Regions from separate parts of the Homo sapiens genome. Here all the other regions are linked to region 1. Evidence: fine-mapped expression QTL. A gene starts in region 1. Each other region holds a variant in brackets. All regions are shown on one strand. Distances are between the middles of the regions. Region 1 holds the start of CXCL16 (C-X-C motif chemokine ligand 16). Region 2 overlaps PELP1 (proline, glutamate and leucine rich protein 1). Region 3 overlaps PELP1 (proline, glutamate and leucine rich protein 1). Region 4 holds the start of TM4SF5 (transmembrane 4 L six family member 5).

Region 1 (6,234 bases):
TGTATTTTAATGGTTGTATATTTATTTTAAGAGAAAAATATAACCAATGCATCAAACTTGTGACTTCACAGATATTATTGCTTAGGATAATTTACTATTTAAGTTTTCTTTCTTTTTTTTTGTTGCCCAGGCTGGAGTGCAATGGCCTGATCTCGGCTCACTGCAACCTCCGCCTCCAGGTTCAAGTGATTCTCCTGCCTCAACCTCCTGAGTAGCTGGAATTACAGGCACATGCCACCATGCCTGGCTAATTTTGTATTTTTAGTAGAGATGGGGTTTTACCATGTTGGTCAGGCTGGTCTCAAACTCCTGACCTCAGGTGATCCACCGGCCTCAACCTCCCAAAGAGCTAGGATTACAGGAGTGAGCCACCGTCCTGGCCTCTACTTAAGTTTTCAAAACTAGTTTGTGCACACTTAAAAGTAATTCATTTCATTGTATGTAAATTTGAACTCAAAAGAAAAAAAAGCATTAAAATATTGAACTCTACTTAATATACATGCTGAAATGTCTTGGGATGAAGTGCAATGATGTCCACAATCTGCCTTGAAATGCATCAAGAGGCCGGGCACTGCGGTTCACACCTGTAATCCCAGCACTTTGGGAGGCTGAGGCAGGTGGATCACCTGAGGTCAGGAGTTTGAGACCAGCCTGACCAACACGGTGAAACCCCATCTCTACTAAAAAAATACAAAAATTAGCTGGGCATGGTGGCGGGCACCTGCAATCCCAGCTACTCGGAAGGCTGTGGCAGGAGAATTGCTTGAACCTGGGAGGCGGAGGCTGCAGTGAGCTGAGGGCACCATTGCACTCCAGCCTGGGCGACAGAGCAAGACTCCATTAAAAAAAAAAAAAAAAAAAAAAAAGAAATGCATCAAGAAATAAGGTGATGGATGATGGATAGAAGAATGAATAGATGGATACTTAATAAAGCAAATATCGTGTAATTGCTGTAAAATTGATAGTGTAAAATATATGTTTATGTAAATATGTAAAATATACATATATAAATAAAATTGTAGAATCTAGGTGGAGGCACTGGATATTCAGTGTGCCATTCTTTCAACTTTTGTATATGTGTAAATTTTCATAATAAAATATTGGAAAAGAAAAATAGGCCAGGTGTGGTGGCTCACGCCTGTAATCCTAGCACTTTTGGAGGCCGAGGCGGGTGGATCACAAGGCCAGGAGTTCGAGACCAGCCTGGCCAACATGGTGAAACCCTGTCTCTACTAAAAATACAAAAATTAGCCAGGCTTGGTGGTGCGCGCCTGTAATCCCAGCTACTCAGGAGGCTGAGGCAGGAGAATCTCTTGAACCTGGGAGGCAGAGGTTGCAGTGAGCCAAGATCGTGCCACTGCACTCCAGCCTGGGTGACAGAGTGAGACTCCATCTCAAAAAAATAAAATAAAATAGTACTTTGATTTCAAGAAAAATATTAATAAGTAGACAATAGCACACGTGGTAGAATGAATTGGCAAAACTCATGAAGGTGATGGTGAATGATCACCCCGTTTGGCAAACAGGGACTCGAGTCTAAGTACTTTGGACAGGATCAGAAGAAGGTTCTAGGAATGTGCGGCCCCAGGGGAAAAGGCTCAGGTAAAGAAAACTGTCAGGTGGAAGCTGCTAAGCCCTGGAGGCAGAGCCTGAAGAGCAGTGGAAAAGTCTCACCTTTGAGATCAAGACAGCTCATCAATTCCTGAACCCATGGGTCCTTGTTGCCCCCACACACGCTCCAGGAAAGGAGCTGGAACCTGCGGAGGAGAGACCTGGGCTTAGCTGCGGCGCCTTCTTTCCTTCCCCGGCTCCTTCCTCATTCCAGAGGCGTGAAGTTGCCACCAAGAAAGAGCCCTTTCTCCTGGGACTGGGAAACTCCCCAGTAGGTGAGACGGAGTCATGAAGTTTCGGGGAATGAGAGCAAACGGAACCCGGAGATGGGGCTCGGTGAGCCGGGAAGGAGTTCAGGCTGGACCAGAGAGGGTCCTGGAGGCACCTGCAAGGAGGGGCCGCCCAGGCGCTGCCCTCGCAGAGGCAGGTAAAATTACCTCGTGTAGTATAGACACCGATGGTAAGCTCTCAGGTGTTTCCGGAGACGATTCATGAACTGAACCGATGGCGGGGAGTCGGAAGAAATTCTTTTACCACAATAACAACTTCCAGTGACGCTGCCCTCGTTGCCATTGCCTGCGCGGGACGGAGGTGGTCGGCACCCATTCCCAGGCCCAGGGTCCCCACTCCGCTGTTCCCTGGCATCCAATCCACAGCCCCATGACAGCCTCTCGGTGGACCCAGGGTCAGAGCGCCAGGCTCAACCCACACATCATCACGCCCCCGACAACATCCATAATCCCGCCCGGAGCCAGGCGTCCCCGGGCCTCTGTCCCCAACCCCAGGCGGCTGGCTGGCTTTCCTCTTGTCCCCGCTGCCTTCATCCACTCAACTCCGTGGGCCTCGTGTCCCCTCCCCAACTCACCCCCTTCCCGTGACAGGGGAATCTGGGTCCCCTGCCCCGCCCCCGGCTAACCTGGCTGAGTCAGGTACACCAGCAGGAGCAGAAGCAGGAGCAGGAGCACGCGGGACCCGGGCCGCAAGTCCCGTCCCATCTCGGGGCTCCGCGGACTCTGCGGGGATGGAGCCACCTCGCTCTGACTCCCAGACATGCTCCGGCGCGTGACGTCCAGCTGGTGTCTCAATGGCTTTCGCCGGGGACCGGAGGAGACGGCGGCCGGAGAGGAGGCGCGAGCCAGCTGCACCCCCCGGCCCTGCTGTGCCCCGACCGTGCGCTCAGTACTCGGCCCGCGCCATGCCAGCCTCTGGACGCAGGGAAAGCCGAGGAGGTGGAGCTCCCGCGCCCTGCGCCCCCGCACTGGGCCCGGCTCCGTCGAGGGAAGGCCAGGAATCTTGGAAGAAACCGAAAGAAAACTCCGGCGGCGGGCGAGGAGGGGCGGGAGGACGACGGCCCGAGGAGCCGATTCGGTTCGGTTCAGGAGGCCGCCCGCCTGGCCCGTCCGCCGACCTGTGAGGCGGCTGCACTGCCGGACCGGCCCTCCTCCTCCGAGGCACTTTCACTTCCCCGATCCGGGCGCCGCGGGACCCAGCCGCGCTGCATGAGCCTCCCGGGCGGCCCGGTGGAGAGAGTCGCCGCCAGCCCCGGCCGCGCGCACCTGCGGGGCAGCCACCCGCGGACGCACCGAGCCCGGGGGGCGTGGCCGCCCGCTGAGCCGGCGAGGGCTCGGGCAGCCCTGACGTCACAACCGCACCCGCGCACCCTCCACCGCGAGGTATTTACCTTCGAAAAGTGGTGGCGGCTGCAGGTACCGGAGGAGTGGGGCGGCCGGGAGGGGCTAGGTCTACCGGGGCTGCCCGCCACGCAGATCCGAGCCCAGGGAACCCCCTCGCTCCCACTCCCATACCCCACAGACGCATCCAAAATGCTTCCCTCCCCACCAAACCGTTCCCGATAGGATTAGCCCTCTCTCCTCTCTAGCCTTAATTTAAACTCTGCTTTTGAGGGTGTGAACTCTCCAATTTTAAGCCCCAAATACCATCTCATCCCTGAGTAGTCTTCTCCAACCCTGGTCACCCACTTTCAAGTCCAGCCCCCATTTTCCTCCCTAAACTCCCATCCTCAGCCCTGAAAAATCCTCTTCTCCGCTCCTAGCATATCCACGGATCCAACCCTAAGTGACTCTCAAACCTACCCTCTCCCTCAATTTGTGACCCAGCCCCAAACTCCATCATTGCTCTCCTGTCCCTCACCATATATCCCTTCTTTTGCTCAGTCTGGGCCGGGGCCCTGTGCCGCTGAAGACATGGAGTTTGTGTCTGGATACCGGGATGAGTTCCTTGATTTCACTGCCCTTCTCTTCGGCTGGTTCCGAAAGTTTGTGGCAGAGCGTGGAGCTGTAGGGACTAGCCTTGAGGGCCGCTGCCGGCAGCTGGAGGCCCAGATCAGAAGGCTACCCCAGGACCCTGCCCTTTGGGTGCTCCATGTCCTGCCCAACCATAGTGTGGGCATCAGCCTGGGGCAAGGGGCAGAACCAGGTCCTGGACCAGGCCTGGGGACTGCCTGGCTCCTGGGAGACAACCCTCCACTCCACCTGCGAGACCTGAGCCCCTACATCAGCTTTGTCAGCCTAGAGGATGGGGAGGAAGGGGAGGAGGAAGAGGAGGAAGATGAAGAAGAAGAGAAGAGAGAGGACGGGGGTGCAGGCAGCACAGAGAAGGTGGAACCAGAGGAGGACCGGGAGCTAGCCCCTACCAGCAGGGAGTCCCCCCAGGAAACAAACCCTCCAGGAGAGTCAGAGGAGGCTGCCCGGGAGGCAGGAGGTGGCAAGGATGGCTGCCGAGAGGACAGGGTGGAGAACGAAACAAGACCCCAGAAGAGGAAGGGACAGAGGAGTGGTAAGAACCCAGGGCTGGCCCTGCCCTACCCCTTGCCCAGCCATCCTCCCTTCGGAAGCCCTCCCCTGCCACTAGTTCTGAGTGCTGGCCTTCAGGCCAATCTGGCCTGAAAAGGTGTTTTTATTGACCCACAGTGGGGTTTTTTTTTTTAATTTAATGTTTAAACATTGCAAGAAAAAAAGTATCCAGAAGTCTGGATTTACACATTCCCAAGAAAAATCTCAAGCTCTGACAGTGGGCCTACATTTCTGCATGGCAGCGCATTCTGGTCCTCTGTAGCAGCTGTCCCCTTTAGAAGGAGCGTGCCCTCTCTACCCAGAGCCCTTTACTCAGTGAGGTTACTTGCCTAGCCCCGTAGGTATTTGAGTTTGGTACTCCTGACCCTGACCACATTTGTCTCTCGCTGCCCCCTACCACCTCAACTTTTCCCTCTTTCCCCAGAGGCTGCCCCCCTGCACGTTTCCTGTCTCTTACTTGTGACGGATGAGCATGGCACCATCTTGGGCATTGATCTGCTAGTGGATGGAGCCCAGGGAACCGCAAGCTGGGGCTCAGGGACCAAGGACCTGGCTCCTTGGGCCTATGCTCTCCTCTGTCACAGCATGGCCTGTCCCATGGGCTCTGGGGATCCCCGAAAGCCCCGACAGCTTACTGTGGGAGATGCCCGGCTGCATCGGTATAGAAATCTGGTATCTGAGGCTGGGGAGGACTCGGGCCCTGGATTCCCAAGCACCTCCTCCAGCCTGATGCCATCTCCCCCCCAACTGCATTTAGAGAGCTGGAGAGCTTGGTCCCAAGGCTAGGTGTGAAGTTAGCCAAAACCCCAATGCGGACATGGGGTCCCCGGCCAGGCTTCACCTTTGCTTCCCTTCGTGCTCGAACCTGCCATGTGTGTCACAGGCACAGCTTTGAAGCGAAGCTGACACCTTGGTGAGCAGCCCCAAAGCTGGGGGAGAGGAAGACCCCAATAGGCAAATAGAAGGAAGGCAGGGTGGTGGGGGGCGCCTAGCAGACAGAAGGAGAGGCAGGGACATGAGAAGATGCAGAGGAAACAATACAGACTGTTACAGGCGGTTAGAGGGTGTAAGACAAACAGACCGAGTGACATATGGGCAGCTGCTGGGCAGTTGAACAGCAGACAGGACCTACAGAGGTTAACACTAGGTGCCCACCACCCGCTGTGTCCCCAGCCCCCAGTGTAGTGCTGTCTTGTATTGTGGAGAGGCTTGTCTCCGGGCTGACTGGCAGCGGTGCCCAGATGATGTGAGTCACCGATTTTGGTGCCCAAGGCTTGCAGCCTTCATGGAGCGGGCAGGAGAACTGGCAACCCTGCCTTTTACCTACACCGCAGGTACCATAAGGAGGTCAGAATGGTTGGGGGAAACTGGGACCAGGTCTTTGAGACTGGGAATTAGATGTCTGGGAACAGGGTCCTGCAGTTGAAGGCTGAGTGTCTGGGGCTAGAGCCTAGATCCCTGGAACAAGGGCAGGGGCTGGGTGTTTGGGGCTGGAGACAGGGTCTCTGAAGCCGAGGCCTGAGTGTCTGGGTCCCTGAGAGCGTGCAGGGATTGGGGGACAGGGATTCAAACACTTACTTGCTTCCCAGCTCCACCACTAACTGCAGTGTGACCTTAAACAAACCACTTTACTTCTTGAAGCTTCCGTGTCCTCATGAGGGATACGGAGAAGGCCCATGGAATTGTTACAAGGATTATCTTGGCTTGGTGCCTGGTACGCTGGAGGCACTCAGAAATGGTAGTTCCCGGCCTGACTGGAACCAGACTTAGAACCAGGGTCCTCGCGGGAGGCTAGGGAGAGTTCAAGGCT
Region 2 (5,000 bases), 62 kb before region 1:
ATTCCCTTCCTGCCTTCCTGGATGGTCACCTGTAAGGCCTCTCCTGGCCTGGAGAGAGGGAATCTCTACCGATGCTCCAGGAATTGAGGACCTGGGGAAGCAGGCGGCCGATCAGGATCCCAAAGCGCAAGAGCCGGCTTCCACACCTGGGGCAGAGAAGGAATGGTGACCCTCGTTTCTGGCACGCCCTATCCCTTCACCACAGCCAGCCCAATCCCACTCACGCGAGGATGAGTGCAGACAGCAGGTCCAAGGCCTCAAGGTGGATAGAGGGCAGCAGCAGCAGCCGCAGGGGACCATCTCCATGCAAGCTCTGGAGAAAAAAGGGGCAGAGATAAAGAGTGGAGGAAGAAAGTGAGAGCCAGAGAGAGACAGAAACAGGGAATGACCATTTACATATGTACACATAGGTAAGAAACCCAACCCCTGATCTCAGCTCTCCCAACAAAATCAAACCCCTATCCTCTAAAATAGACCCTGGATGGAAGGTAAGAAGGATGGCTGGGCCTCTCAGCAATGACTCAGCTGATCCCCAAATTCACCCTCCCCCAAGGAAGCATTTGCTACACTCTGACACTGTGCTCCTGTGTCACGACACATAGGAAGTGATGTTATTTGGACAAAAGTAGGAAGCTCTCTGGGACGACTCCAGGATGACACTGTTTGGGGAGACTCAGGTCCCCAGTACTTTCCTGGTTGCCTGGTATCCTGAGCAAGGGCTCTGAAGAGATGACAAATCCCACTTACAATATTCTTGCTACTGACGCTGAGGGTCCGGCAGATGAAATCCAGGATTTCCTGCACAGGGACGGACACGGGAGCTCCAAACTCAGAGCTAAAGAGAATCAGAGCAGGGAGACCTTCAGAGCAGGCTCCCTGGCATAACTCCCACACCCACCTTCATCTCCTTTCTCCTGATGAAGGCGACACTCCCTCATCAATCCCTCCTGCTCCACGCCTCCGCTCCCTCCAATACCCACACACACCTGAGCATGAGCCCTAGGCAGCGGGCCAGTCCCGAAAACCTCTGCCGAAGCTGGAGAAGGACATGGGCATCACCATCTTCTGAGGACAGCAGCATCTCCACCCCAGGGCCTTCATTCTGCACAGGAGCTGGCAGAAGCACAACTACCCTGTACACTGTCTTTCTTCCATCCCCTCCTCTGTCATTTCTGGTGGACGACCTGCCTGTATTCTAACCCATTTTCCCCAAAAACCAACTGCCCCATGTCTCTGGGCTCCCCTCCTGTTCCTTCCTGCCACGCTTCCTCACTATTGTTCCACTAACTAGCAGCCCTGGTCCCTACCAGTCTCTGCTCCCTCGTACAGGGCCCCCAGCAGGGTGTGCAGTGAGGCCAGCAGACTGTGTAGCTCCTGCTCCCAGCTCTCGGTGTGCTTCAGGCCTTGGGAAAAGCCAGCCCCTAAAGAGGGCAGCCGGGAATAACACTCACAGGCCAACTGCGGGAGAAAGGACAGAAACCTGGTCAGATGGGAATCCAGCCCAGCCACAGAACCCCCAGCCCCACTGACACCCAAAAGAGATGGAGATCAGAGAGAGCTCTGAGGGAAACCTGAGATGGGACAATGAGGCCGAAGGACACAGATGGGCATATGAAGGCAGGACAGAAAAGCTAGAGGAGGAGCAGCAAGAGACAATCCAGGCTCAGATCCCCGGGCTCTCCCTCTCCCTCCCTGCCCTTTACCTGTTGGAGCTGAGGGCTCAAGGCATCCACCCTAGACAGAAAAAATGAGGCCAGCTTGCCCTGGATGTGGAGGAAAAAAGGAAGAGGCCAGTGAGCCAGCTCTGAGAGCCAGAGATGTACATCCCATCCGTTCCCAGCAGCAGACTCTAAGCCCAGGTCTCTTTTTCCTGTAGACACAAGAAGCAAAGCCCTCTATGGGGCATCAACACCGGGCACGGACATGCTTTCATGGTAAAAGACTCCTCAACGCCAGCTCTGGTCCTCGGCTTCCTGCTTGGGAGCGAAAAGGGCCTGGCCCTGTCCCAGAGACAGCTGGGCTTCCTCCTTGACAGTTTTTGCAAAATTTTTCCCTCAAGCCAAAAGGACATAGTACTAAAAAACAGTCTCCACACTCCAACTCTCTACCAGCTCACACACAAAAACGAGGGTCCAAGCTGGAAGTTAAGACACTAACCAGAGGTATGAGGGCAGGACAAGGTCAAAAAAGAAGGCTGCTAGAGCAGAAGTAAGGCAGCAAGTCTCGGAGTAGCAATCTGTCATTCGGCACTTTCTCTGCCTGCTGTGTGAAGGTGCTAGGGCAGGAGTGTTTAACCTGAGAACCACAATTTAGTTGGATATACAATCATAGGGGGCCTGTGATCATGGATGGGGAAAAAAATTACTCCCACTAGCCTATTTGTAAAATGTAGTGTTTCCTTCACTTATAAATGCAGACAAATAGCCACAGTAGTATCAGCAGTACCTGTGACTGTCACTAATAGAATCATTTTCATGTCACATTATA[A/C]TTGTAACACATCCTGAAATATCATTCACATGCATCACTAATTTGCAATTATAGTCGTTGTAAGACCTGCTTCTAGATCTTATTACTTAACATGTCAATAAAAAAGCACAGGCTGGGTGCAGTAGCTCACGCCTGTAATCCAGGCACTTTGGGAGGTCAAGGCAGGCGGATCACTTGAGCCAAGGAGTTTGAGACCAGTCTGGGCAACATGGAGAAACCCTATCTCTACTAAAAATACAAAAACTTAGCCGGGTGTGGTGGCGCATGCCTGTAGTCCCAGCTACTTGGGAGGCTGAGGTGGGAGGACCACCCAAGCCCAGAACCGAGATCATGCCAGTCAGTGTACTCTAGCCTGGGTGATGAGAGTGAGACCCTGTCTCAAAAAGAAAAAAAAAAAGGCCAGGCACGGTGGCTCATACCTGTAATCCCAGCACTTTGGGAGGCTGAGGTGAGCAGATCACGAGGTCAGGAGTTCAAGACCAGCCTGGCCAACATGGTGAAACCCCATCTCTACTAAAAGTACAAAAATTAGCTGGGCACAGTGGTGGGCACCTGTAATCCCAGCTACTTGGGAGGCTGAGGCAGGAGAATTGCTTGAACCCAGGAGGCGGAGGTTGCAGTGAGCCGAGATCACGCCACTGCACTCTAGCCTGGGTGACAGAGCAAGACTCTGTCTCAGAAAAAAAAAAGAATTAGTAAGGATAACAAGACAAGCATATGGAAAAACAAGAATCTGGAGCCAACACTGGCAACATACAGAGAAGGGGAAAGAGCAGGCTCACGCTTTCCCCGAGACATCCTAGTGGTGCACACCTGTAGTCCTAGCTACTTGGGAGACTGACGTGGGAGGATCACTTGAGCCCAGGAGTTCAAGGTTACAGTGAGCTACAATCTTAACACTGCACTCCTGGGTCACAGAGCGAGACCCTATCTCCAAAAACGGCTCAAAAAGCTGGACTGAAGCCAACAGAAGTCTGCTTATGTGACTGCAATAAAGCAGTGTACGGTGAAGCGACACGGCTCTAACCACAGGTTACCCTGGCTGACCCACAAAGCAAACCAAAGCAATGACTCGCTTGGAACAGTTCACTCAAAACGCGCACACACACAGCATGTCCTGGGGCTCTCTCAAGAGTAGGTCAGTCTTCCCACCCATTCCGAGGAACTGCTCATCAATGTGGCAAGGACGAGGAAGTGAGTTCAAGTCTCTGCAGGAATTGACCTCATGGACTCAGAATGCTTGATTCACATTACTTGGGAGTAGTAATCCTGAGCTTGGAGTCTACAATTACCCTGAGAGTATCCGGGGAATGTAACAGAAAACACAGACACTTCAAAACGGCAGTTATCAGTTTTCCTAAGTACTAGTCTGCGAGATTTTCCAAGTGCAAATTGCCCCTGGAGCCTCTGCATGACAGATTCTTATCTGAAGTGCTGGCAACCGACAAAGCCAAAACCCTCAACACCCTCAACAGAGGGAAGTTCTCCAGATGACCTTTTTTTTTTTTGAGACAGGGTCTCACTCTGTTACCCAGGCTAGAGTGCAGTGCCACGATCTCAGCTCACTGCACCCTCTGCCTCCCAGCTTCAGGGGATCTCCTGCCTCAATGTTCTAAGTAGCTGGAACCACAGGCACACACCACCACACCCAGCTAATTTTTTTGTATTTTTGGTAGAGGTAGGGTTTCACCATGTTGGCCAGGCTGATCTCAAACTCCTGGCAGATGGCACTTGATTCTTAGGGAAATAAAGGTAAGACACTCCCTGGAAGGACACAGGAACATTTGTTAGTTTGGAAAGGGTACTCAAAATGCAGGCCTTAAGTTCAACTGTCTGACAAAAGGTTGAGAATTACAGATAAATTCTCCTGACTACTCACACTGAAAATAAAAAAGCAACAGCAGAAGAACACTTAGCATTCTAGTCTCCTTAACTCTTACTATTCACACTTCTATCCTGTTAAGTAACACTCAATTTCCCCTCCACTTTCATGGGGGATGCAGGTAGATAAAGATAATACCTAACAGAGCTGAATCAAAATACACTTTTGCAGTAAAACCAAACCTTTGTTCAGGGACAAACTGCTGGCCTGTGTCATTTGAGAGGTTAACTTACAGAACATTTGACAAGATAACCAGTTTTTACTAAACTTAGTAAAACCTCAGTAAATAACCTCTGCTAATCTTTAATAAAATCGATGAGTCACTCCAAATACCTTCTTGACAAAATGTCCTGCCCTGCCTACCCAAAGATTCTATTAGCTGTGATTAGAGGCATTCACATGAAAAGAAGGAACCAGCAAGGACACAACCCCTCGCTCACTCAGAACTAGCATCTGCTCAGGCACTTTTCAGATACTGCGAGTAACCAGTTACTAACGACACTGCAGGCATCACTCCCTGATCACAGCGCTCAGGCCGATGGAACTCTGACTCACAGTCCTTCCCAGGCCAGCGAGCTACACAGCCACTAACAATTGACTAGAGCTGCTACCTGCCCTGGTTTTACAATTA
Region 3 (5,000 bases), 43 kb before region 1:
AAGAGGGGACTATTGCATAAAAGGCCATAAATAGGAATGAAGTTTTAGCCGGGCACAATGGCACCCGCCTGTAGTCCCAGCTACTTGGGAGGCTGAGGCATAAGAATCACTTGACTAATCCTGAGAGTTTGAATCCAGCCTAGGCAACACAAGACCCAACACAGCAAAACAGAAAAGAGTAATAAAGTCTTGACACATGGATGAACCTTGAAAACTGACTGCTAAGTGAAAGAAGCCAAACCCAAAGGCTACATATTATACAATTCATTTCTATCAAATGGCCAGAATAGGCAAATCTCTAAAGAAAAAAAGTAGATTACTGTTTGCCTAAAGCTGGAGGCAGCCAGGGAGGGCTTGGTGGGCAATGGGAATGACTGTAAGTGGGTACAGAATTTCTTTATGGAGTGATGAAAATGTTCCAAAACTGAGCACAGCAATGACCGCACAACTCTGCAAATATACTAAATCCACGGAATTGTATACTCTAAGTGAGTGAACTGTGGCCGGGCGCAGTGGCTCATGCCTATAATCCCAGTACTTTGGGAGGCCAAGGTGGGCAGACCACCTGAGGTCAGGGGTTTGAGACCAGCCTGGCCAACATGGTGAAACGCCATCTCTACCAAAAATACAAAAAAAAAAAAATCAGCCAGGCGTGGTGGCAGGCGCCTGTAATCCCAGCTACTCCAAAGGCTGAGGCAGGAGAACCGCTTGAGAACGGGAGGCGGAGGTCGCAATGAGCCAAGATCGTGACACTGCACTCCAGCCTGGGTGACAGAATGAGACTCCACCTCAAAAAAAATAAAATAAAATAAAAATAAAATGGGCCGGGCGCGGTGGCTTACGCCTGTAATGCCAGCACTTTGGGGGGCCGAGGCAGGTGGATCATGAGGTCAGGAGTTCAAGACCAGCCTGGCCAACATGGTGAAACCCCGGCTCTACTAAAAATACAAAAATTAGCCAGGCGTGGTGGTGGGCGCCTGTAATCCCAGCTACTCGGGAGGCTAAGGAAGGAGAATCGCTTGAACCTGAGAGAATCGCTTGAACCCGGGAGAATCGCTTGAACCCGGGAGAATCGCTTGAACCCAGGATGCAGAAATTGCAGTTTGCCAAGATTGCACCACTGTACTCCAGCCTGGGTGACAATGTGAGACTCCATTTCGAAAAAAATAAAAGGCCAGGCACCGTGGCTCATGCCTGTAATTCCAGCACTTTGGGCAGCCGAAGCGGGTGGATCACGAGGTCAGGAGTTTGAGACCAGCCTGGCCAACATGATGAAAACCCGTCTCTACTGAAAAATACAAAAATTAGCCGGACATGGTGGCGGGCGCCCGTAATCCCAACTACTAGGGAGGCTGAGGCAGGAGAATCGCTTGAACCCGGGAGGCAGAGGTCGCAGTGAGCCGAGATCACGCCACTGCACTCCAGCCTCGGCAACAGAGTGAGACTCCGTCTGGAAAAAATAAATAAATAAAATGGCTAAATTGTATGGTTTGTGAATTATTTCTCAATAAAGCTGTTTTGGCCAGGCACGGTGGCCTATAATCCCAAAATTCTGGGAAACCAAGGCAGGCGAATCACTTGAGGCCAGGAGTTCCATACCAGCCTGGGCAACACAGAGAGACACCATCTCTACAAAAATTTTTAAAAATTAGCCAGGTGCAATGGCATGCACCTGCAGTCCCAGCTACTCGGGAGGCTGAGGCAGAAGGATCGCTTGAATCCAGGCGTTCAAGGCTGCAGTGAGCTATGAACACACTACTATACTCCAGCCTGGGCAAAAGAGTGAGACCCTCTCTCTTAAAAAAAAAAAAAAAAAAAAAAAAAATCTGGCAGGGGGCAGTGATTCACGCCTGTAATCCCAGCACTTGGGGAGGCCAAGGTGGGCAGATCATTTGAGGTTAGGAGTTTGAGAACAGCCTTGCCAACGTGGCGAAACTAAACATCTAAAAATCTACTAAAAATACAAAAATTAGCCAGACGTGGTGGTGTGGTTTCACCATATTGGTCAGGCTGGTCTCCAACTCCTGACCTCAGGTGATCCGCCCACCTTGGCCTCCGAAAGTGCTGGGATTACAGGAGTGAACCACCATGAACCCCCGCAGTAAAGCTGTTTTTATAAAAAGGCATACTGATAACCA[T/TA]AAAAAAAAGAGTGTTCCAGGAAAAGAAAAAAAAAAAAAACAGGCTGGGCAAGGGGCTCATGACTGTAATCCCAACACTGGGAGGCCAAGGCAGGAGGATGGCTTGAGCCCAGGAGGTCAAGATCAGCCTGTGCAACCGAGGGAGACCCCCATTCTCCACAAAGAATTTTTAAAAATTAGCCGAACATGGTGGAGGGCACCTGTGGTCACAGCTACTTGGGAGGCTAAGGTGGGAGGGCTGCTTGACCCCGGGAGGTCAAGACTGCAGTGAGCCATGATCGCCACCACTACACTCCAGCCTGAACAGCAAAGCAACATCCTGTCTCAAAAAAGAAAAATAAAAAGAGCGAAGACTATGAGATGAGAGCATACTTCGTTATTTCCAAAGAACAACAAGGAGACAAATTGTTGATGGAGAAAAGTGAGCAAGGTGGAGAGGAGTAACCAATGATGAAGGTTAAGGGAGTGGGACCAGACTGTGCAGAGACATATAGGTGATTACCGACTTTCACCCTGAGTAAGATAAAAGCCACGAGGGGGAGAGAGAAATTGCGCACAGGAGTGACAATATCTGACTTCTGGTTTGCTTTTTGTTTTGCTTTGTTTTTAATCAACAGCATTTGTGTTGTCTTGTTGAGAAGGCAGAAGCAAACAGATGAGGTAGAAGGTTACTGTAATATTCCAGACAAATGATGATGCAGCTTGAAGAATGTGGTAACTGTGGCGATACAAAGCAGTCAAAATCAGGAAGTACTGTGAAGGTAGAGCCAACGGGATGTGCCGTCAAACTGGATATGGGTGGAAAATAAAAAGAAGGGTCCAAGATAATGCCAAGGTTTTTTGCTGAACAACTAGAAAGATGAAGCTGCCATTCACCGAGAAGGGAACTAATGCAGGAGGAGCAGGTTTTGGGGTGACAATAGGGAGCTCAGTTTCAGATCTGTTCAATCTGTGATGTGTATTTAACATGAAAACGGAGATGCCAAATAGGCACCGGCTAGACAAGTGTGAAGAGAACTTCTGGCTGGAGATGTAAACTCAAGAGGTGTGGGCCTTGAGACTGGATCAGTTCACCAAGGGAATAAGAGTAAAGAGAAGAGAAACAGTGCAAGGCCTGGGTTGTAGGCACTCAAACCTTCAGAGGTCACAGAGGTGAGGAGGGATCAGTCTTTACTGGAAAGGAGTAACCAGTGTGATAACAGGAGAATCGAGAGGAGAGGAGAGGGGCTGGGAGGGTGACTAACGCCTATAATCCCAGTACTTTAGGAGGCTAAAGTGGGAAGACTGCTTGAGCTCAAGAGTTCAAGACCAGCCTCAGCAACATAGCGAGACCTTGTTTCTACTAAAAATCAAACAGATTAGCTGGGTGTGGGGGCACACACCTGTGGTCCCAGCTACCCAGAAGGCTGAGCAGGGCGGACTGCCTCAGCCTGGAAGATCAAGGATGCAGTAAGCTATGATCGCGCCACTGCACTCCAGCCTGGGCAACACAGCGAGACCCTGTCTCAATGAAACAAACAAACAAAAACAAAAAGACAGGGGAGAGATATCCCAGAAGTCAAGTGAAGACAGTTTTTTAAATAGGAAAGTATAATTAACTGTATCAAATGGTAGCGATAAGTCAAATATGATGACCCAAATTGACCTTTGAACTTAATGTCTTGATGGACACCAGTGATCTTCAAGAGTTACCATTTCACCCAGCAAAGGGTTGTTTCGGCAGCATTTAGGCTAAAAGCCTGAATGTAATGAGTTCAACGGAACAACCATCATAGTAATAATTCATTCAGGGAAGAACCTTTAATAGATGTTAAAATGAGTGGGTGAAAGGTTGACAAGACCTAAGACATTCACATTATCTCCCCCCAAGACACTTAACTACAAATGGAAAAAAAAAAAATCATACCTTTATAACAGTGAAGAAATCTGGCAGAGACCTGCTTAACCTAGAATACGTGCTCCTGATGTGATGCACCAAGAATGACACATCATTTCTGCAAGGTTTTTTTTTTTTTTTTTTGTAGAGATAGGGTCTTGCCATGTTGCCCAAGCTAGTCTTGAACTCCTGCACTCAGTGATCCTCCCACTTCGGCCTCCCACTAAGCCTCTGAATCTCATGCTGGGATAACAGGCATGAGCCACTGCACCTGGACGACTTCTGCAGTATTCTTGCTGAAAACGCACAAATCTCCAGTTTAATTTGTCTGCTGTTTCCTCATGATTAGATCCTAACCTGAGGGGCATCCTACGAAATAACTATTCTGTACTCTTTAAAAATATCAAGATCATAAGACAAAGGCTGAAGAACTATTTCAGATTAAAGAATACTAAAGAGACATTATAACTAAAAGCAAGCTGGGCGCGGTGGCTCACGCCAGCACTTCGGGAGGACAACGCGGGTGGATGATCTGAGGTCAGGAGTTCGAGACCAGCCTGGCCAACATGGCGAAACCCCATCGCTACTAAAAAAAAAAAAAGAAAAAAAATTAGCCAGGCATGGTAGCAGGCGCTTGTAATCCCAGCTACTTGGGAGGCTGAGGCAGGAGAATCGCTTAAACCCAGGGGGCGGAGGTTCCAGTGAGCCAAGATCATGCCACGGCACTCCAGCCTAGGCAACAGACTGAGATTGTCTCAAAAAAAAAAAAACAAGGCAAAACAAACAACAACAAAAAAAACAACTAAATGCAACATGTGATCCTGCATTAAATCCTGGACTAGAAATGTTGTTGTTGTTGTTGTTGTTATAATGGATGCCTTTAGGAGAACTGATGGCAAAACTTAAAAAAGATCTGTAGGTTAAATAATTTATTGTACCAATATTAATTCTCTGATCATGATGATAGAGTATGATTATGTAAGAGA
Region 4 (6,000 bases), 29 kb after region 1:
CCTGTAATCCCAGCACTTTGGGAGGCCAAGACAGGTGGATCACTTGAGGTCAGGAGTTCAAGACCACCCTCCAACATGGTGAAACTTAGTCTCTACTAAAAATATAAAAATTAGCCAGGCCTGGTGGCCCATGCTTGTAATCCCAGCTACTTGGGGGGCTAAGGCAGGAGAATCGCTTGAACTCAGAAGGCTGAGGTTGCAGAGTCAAGATGACGCCACTGCACTCCAGCCTGCATGACAGAGCAAGACTCTGACTCAAAACAAAAGAGAAGAAAAATATTTTTTTCCAAAATGTGCATCCAGTTTTGTAACCAGATATATGAAATTTATTTAGACTTACGTCAAGACTTCCCCATTTTGGGGTTTTTATTTTACTTCATCTCTTGGTGAGTCAACACAATTTCTCTAAAAAAAAGGAGCCAAAGTGTTATTTTGAAATCCAAACATTCTCAGAAATGCAATTGTGTTGCCCTTAACATACAAAATGCAACTTAGACATGTATATGATAGTTCTACCTTTTTTGGTGGACACAGCTGCCTTACTCCTTTGTCCTCTGACATTCAGTATTTCAGAGAAGACTCTGGCCACACCAACTATTGTTTCTTTCTAAGTAGCCTTTTTAAATTCTGCCTAGATGTATCCTTTAATTCAGATATTTTGTCAGGATGAATCTATGGTCAGCTGACTTTTAATATTTTACCTGCCGTGCAGTATAACTTTCAACCCACTGACCTGAGTGGATCTATCTGCGCTCAGTGACGTCTTCTCCTAGTGCAGATGTTTTAACTGTGGTGTCACTTCCACCAGTTCTATTCTTGTTCTTAGGAGAAGCCAGTTTCCTGAATTTTTTTTTTTTTTTTTTTGAGCCAGAGTCTCACTCTGTCACCCAGGCTGAAGCGCAATGGCGTGATCTTGGCTCACTGCAATCTCCACCTCCCGGGTTCAAGCGATTCTCCTGCCTAAACCTCCTGAGTAGCGGGGATTACAGGCACCCGCCACCATGCCCAGCTAATTTTTGTATTTTTAGTAGAGACGGGGTTTCCCCATGTTGGTCAGGCTGGTCTCGAATTCCTGACCTCAGGTGATCTGCCCGCCTCGGCCTCCCAAAGTGCTGGGATTACAAGCGTGACCCACTGAGCCTGGACCTTTTTTTTTTTTTTTTTTTTGAGATGGAGTCTTGCTCTGTTGCCCATACTGGGGTGCAATGGTGCGATCTCGGCTCACTGCAACCCCCACCTCCCGGGTTCAAGCGATTCTCCTGCCTCAGCCTCCTGAGTAGCTGGGATTACAGGTGCCTGCCATCACACTTGTCTAATTTTTGTATTTTTTGTGAAGATGGGGTTTCGCCATGTTGGCCAGGCTGGTCTCAAACTCCTGACCTCAGGTGATTCACCGAGCTTGGCCTCCCAAAGTGCTGGGATTACAGGCGTGAGCCACCGCGCCCGGCCAGCCTTTTCTTTCTTAAGTTATTCTGTTCCTAGTTCCAGGAGAATTCTAGTGATGTCATCAAAAATCTTCCTGGAAATCTCTTCCAAATCCTATAGTAAATGTTCCTCCAGAGGATTCTGTTTCTTTCAGTCTTCAGGTTGATTTGCCCTTCCCTGGTTTTGAGAAAATTTTTCAGAATCCCTATAATGTTTTGTTAACATTATTAACATTATTTCATTCATCCAGAATTGTATAAAAATAATGTAATGAATGCCTGTGGACCACCCCACCCACACAACTATTTTTTTTCTCTTTATTCATCCTCAAAACAGACACCATTTGGCTGGCCGCAGTGGCTCACACCTGTAATCCCAGCATTTTGGGAGACCGAGGTGGGTGGATCACCTGAGATCAGGAGTTCGAGAGCAGCCTGGCCAACATGGAGAAACCCTGTCTTCATCTCCACAAAAAATACAAAAATGAGCCAAGCGTGGTGGCGGGCACCTGTAATCCCAACTACTTGAGTCTCCTGAACCCGGGAGGCGGAGGTGGCGGTGAGCCGAGATCACGCCACTGCACTGCAGCCTGGGCAATAAGAGTGAAACTCTGTTTAAAAAAAAATAAAAAAGAGGCACCATCTCTCAGAATCAGCTTGAGCAACTTGTAGACAAATAGGTGGCCAGCTCTTGGCCCTGCTCTCTGTCCATCAGATCAATGGCTGAATCCCCTCTTCAGGTCCACGGTTGGAAGGGCCACTATTCGGGATATGACAGTTGCTCTGGTAGTTCAACATTAGTGCTGGTGACAACCTCTCATCGGCCACCTCCTGAGGAACCAGAGTTTTCCAGTGCCTGTGCTTCTCCCTCTGGCGCTGTTTCAGAGTAACTATTCTCCATACACTTCTCTTGCTGTGACTTCTGCTTATTTCTGGTGTCAGTTGCCTCTGGCTTTTGATTGCTTCTTTCTTGCATACAACTCTCAGTTTGAAGCCACCCCACTCTCTGATGACTGTCTCAGCTTGTCTCACAGACACATTTCCCAATCATGAAGATCCAGTCGGTGGATTGGTCATTATCCAGTCAGTGTACCTCTGTTGGATGGAGTTCTCACCTCGAGAGACCTCACAGGTCGCTGGCTACATGTCTGCCTTTGGGTCAGCTACTTGTTCCTCAATCAACCAGCCCTGGCCTAGATAAGGGGGTCTGTGTTAGGAACTTGTTACTGGGCAACAAACCATCCCCCTCGACGAAGTCTTAGTGTCAAATAAATATAAGCATTTATTTCACTGATACACACATAGGAGTTGGCTGGGGGTCAGGTGATCTAGGGTGGGATCCAATGTGACCCTTTTCCTTGTATCTTTTTTTTTTTTTTCTAGATGGAGTCTTCCTCTGTCACCCAGGCTGGAGTCCAGTGGTGCAATCTCGGCTCACTGCAACCTCCATCTCCCGGGTTCAAGCAATTCTCCTGCCTCAGCCTCCCGACTAGCTGGGATTACAGGTGCCTGCCACCACACCCAGCTAATTTTTTTTGTATTTTTAGTAGAGACAGGGTTTCACCACGGTAGCCAGGATGGTCTCGATCTCCTGACCTCATGATCTGCCCACCTTGTCCTCCCAAAGTGCTGGGATTACAGGCGTGAGCTACTGCGCCCGGCCAAAAGAAATTTTTTAAATTAGTTGAGTGTGGTGGTGTGGGCCTGTAATCCTGGCTACTAAGGAAGCTGAAGTGGGAAGACAGCTTGAGCTAGGAGGTCATAGCTGCAGCGAGCCATGATTATCTTACCATGGCACTCTAGTCTGAGTGACAGAGACCCTGTCTCAAAAAAAAAAAAAAAAGGATAATGTAAAATCTTTAAAGAAAAGGGACAGAGGCTGGGCGCAGTGGTTCATGCCTGTAATCCCAGCGTTTTCGGAGGCCGAGGCGGGGATCATCTGAGGTCGGGAGTTCGAGACTAGCCTGGCCAACATGGAGAAACCCCGTCTCTACTAAAAATACAAAATTAGCTGGGCGTGGTGTCGCATGCCTATAATCCCAGCTACTCGGGAGGCTGAGGCAGGAGAATTGCTTGAACTTGGGAGGTGGAGGTTGCAGTGAGCCATGATCGCACCACTGCACTCCAGCCTGGGCAACAAGAGCAAAACTCTGTCTCAAAAAACAAAAAAGAAGAGG[A/G]ACAGAAAACATCAGAAGCAATATGGAAATGTTGTTTAAAGCATTAAACATGCCAACAGAAGCAAAACCAAATGTATCAGTCATCATAATTACCTATGAGTCAGAGACAAATAGTTGGGGAGGTTCAAAGTATTTTCTTTTTCAGGCATCCTCTGATTCAAGAGGTAAATTCTCCATGTATTTTTCTCAATCCAGTTCCTCTGTCTTATAAATAGCAGAGATTCTGGCTTTTCTCCATTTTCCACATTTCTGTAGTGGTCTGAGTGGGCCGCAAGGAGGGGCTGCATCAGGGGCCACTGGCTGGTGACACTTTCCAGGTGACAGCCTCATTGCATACCCTCTGAAGCCCTGCAGCCCTTCCTGCTACCCTCATCTCTTCATGGCACTCCCACATCCTACTTGAGCTAGGGCTCATTCTGTGGGGGCCTTCACTCTCCTGTTTGCTTCTGAGACCCAGGAGGCAGAGGTTGCAGTGAGCCGAGATCACACCACTAAACTCCAGCCTGGGTGACAGAGCAAGACTCCATCTCAAAAAAAAAACAACAAAAAACCATTAGCCAGGTGTGGTGGCACACACCTATAGTCCTAGCTACTCGGGAGGCTGAGGTGGGAGGATCACTTGAGCCCAGGTGGTCAGGGCTGCAGGGAGCCATGATCCACTCCACACCAGCCTGGGCAACAAAGGGAGACCCTGGTCTCAAAAACATTTTTTTAATTAAAAAAAAAAGAAGTCGACTGGGTGGCTTGGCTCATGCTTGTAATCCCAGCACTTTGGGAGGCTGAGGCAGGTGGATCATTTGAGGTGAGGAGTTTGAGACCAGCCTGGCCAACATGGTGAAACCCCGTCTCTACTAAAAATACAAAAATTAGCTGGGTGTGGTGGTGGGCGCCTGTAATCCCAGCTACTTGGGAGGCTGAGGCAGGAGAATCGCTTGAACCCAGGAGGCGGAGGTTGCAGTGAGCCAAGATCACGCCACTGCTCTCCAGCCTGGGCGGCAGAGTGAGACTCCGTCTCAAAAAAAAAAGAAGTTATCAAGGAAACTGCAGCACCCCAACAAAAACAGAACTTCTTTGACCTCAGAATGGAAAAATGGCAGAAGCTGATTCTCACAGAGTTGGCTCAGATCGCATGGCTGTTGCTAAATCAAACACCGAGGCTAGCAGGATAGAACGCTCTCATCAATGAGGCCTAGGTCCCGAGCCCACCCTGAGAGACAGGCAGTGGCCTCAAGAGGAGGAGACATCAATAATCAAATACCAGGAAGACGAAATGCAAGGACAATAAGAGCCCACAATCACCTCTTTAATTTCTCCCTGGGAAGAATGCTGCCTGAGAGGCTGGCAGAAACGAAGAGGCCACCACACATCTGCTCTGTGCTTCCTAGTTTACAAAATACTTCTCAGGTTGTCCCATTTAATCCTCACAAGTAGCCCACAAGGCAAGTGGCATCACTTATTTATTTATCTATTTATTTATTTATTTATTTATTTACTTTTTGAGACAGAGTTTCATTCTTGTCACTTTATTTACTTATTTATTTATTTTTCGAGACAGAGTTTCACTCTTGTCACCCAGGCTGGAGTGCAATGGCACAATCTCAGCTCACTGCAACCTCCACCTTCCAGGTTCAAGTGATCCTCCTGCTTCAGCCTCTCGAATAGCTGGGATTACAGGTGCCCGCCACCATGCACAGATAACTTTTGCATTTTTAGTAGTGACGGGGTTTCACCACGTTGGCCAGGCTGGTCTCAAACTCCTGACCTCAGGTGATCCACCCTCCTCGGCCTCCCAAAGTGCTGGGATTACAGGTGTGAGCCACCGTGCCCAGACACAAGTGGCAACTGAGACTTAAGAGACATGAAGGGGCTTGGCTAAGTTGCAAAGCAGGTATGGAACCAACAGAGGGGCTGTGGAGCTGTGCAGAAAAAACAGGAAGGCACTAACCCAGGGTAATGTGTCCATAGCCCCCACCTTGTCCAGCACCACATCCTCCCTTCACCTCAGGGCTGCAGCTCCTCCGCCTCTGCCTCCTCAGGGCCCACATCCTGTGCCTCTCTCCCTTATCATTCTGATCCTGCCAGTTTCTGCCACGCCTCTGTCTGAACTTTGCTCCGTGCTCCAGGCTTGTTTTCCTCTGGACCTGGGAACCACTGGCTTACTTTCACTCACCGCCTGTCCTTCCTGACACCTCACCATGTGTACGGGAAAATGTGCCCGCTGTGTGGGGCTCTCCCTCATTACCCTCTGCCTCGTCTGCATTGTGGCCAACGCCCTCCTGCTGGTACCTAATGGGGAGACCTCCTGGACCAACACCAACCATCTCAGCTTGCAAGTCTGGCTCATGGGCGGCTTCATTGGCGGGGGCCTAATGGTGAGAAGGCTGGCAGGGGAGCCCGGG

What was found.
Region 2: its variant is fine-mapped to the expression of CXCL16 in whole blood (INTERVAL, PIP above 0.99).
Region 3: its variant is fine-mapped to the expression of CXCL16 in whole blood (INTERVAL, PIP 0.98).
Region 4: its variant is fine-mapped to the expression of CXCL16 in macrophages (Nedelec 2016, PIP 0.95).

What each region holds. Positions count from the first base shown.
Region 1 is chr17:4,736,734-4,742,967 of GRCh38, forward strand. It overlaps CXCL16 (C-X-C motif chemokine ligand 16), which reads right to left and starts at 3,195. Exons shown (of 6, transcript NM_001386809.1): 1 at 2,528-3,195; 2 at 2,049-2,187; 3 at 1,675-1,757. The coding sequence starts at 2,606. ZMYND15 (zinc finger MYND-type containing 15) reads left to right here and starts at 3,100. Exons shown (of 14, transcript NM_001136046.3): 1 at 3,100-3,317; 2 at 3,786-4,407; 3 at 4,849-5,083; 4 at 5,182-5,337; 5 at 5,598-5,758. The coding sequence starts at 3,816. RefSeq lists enhancers at 1,708-2,613, 2,614-3,518 and a silencer at 3,067-3,286.
Region 2 is chr17:4,675,050-4,680,049 of GRCh38, forward strand. It overlaps PELP1 (proline, glutamate and leucine rich protein 1), which reads right to left. Exons shown (of 17, transcript NM_014389.3): 6 at 1,704-1,763; 7 at 1,308-1,458; 8 at 987-1,113; 9 at 748-835; 10 at 225-313; 11 at 30-146. Among named protein-coding and RNA genes, the nearest start is that of PELP1, 27 kb to the right of the region's middle. The variant A/C (reference allele first, on the strand shown) is at 2,488.
Region 3 is chr17:4,693,869-4,698,868 of GRCh38, forward strand. The region is part of intron 1 of PELP1 (proline, glutamate and leucine rich protein 1); the gene reads right to left. Among named protein-coding and RNA genes, the nearest start is that of PELP1, 7.8 kb to the right of the region's middle. RefSeq lists enhancers at 1,345-1,514, 2,708-2,777, 3,407-3,576, 4,485-4,654. The variant T/TA (reference allele first, on the strand shown) is at 2,139.
Region 4 is chr17:4,766,127-4,772,126 of GRCh38, forward strand. It overlaps TM4SF5 (transmembrane 4 L six family member 5), which reads left to right and starts at 5,760. Exons shown (of 5, transcript NM_003963.3): 1 at 5,760-5,973. The coding sequence starts at 5,797. The variant A/G (reference allele first, on the strand shown) is at 3,602.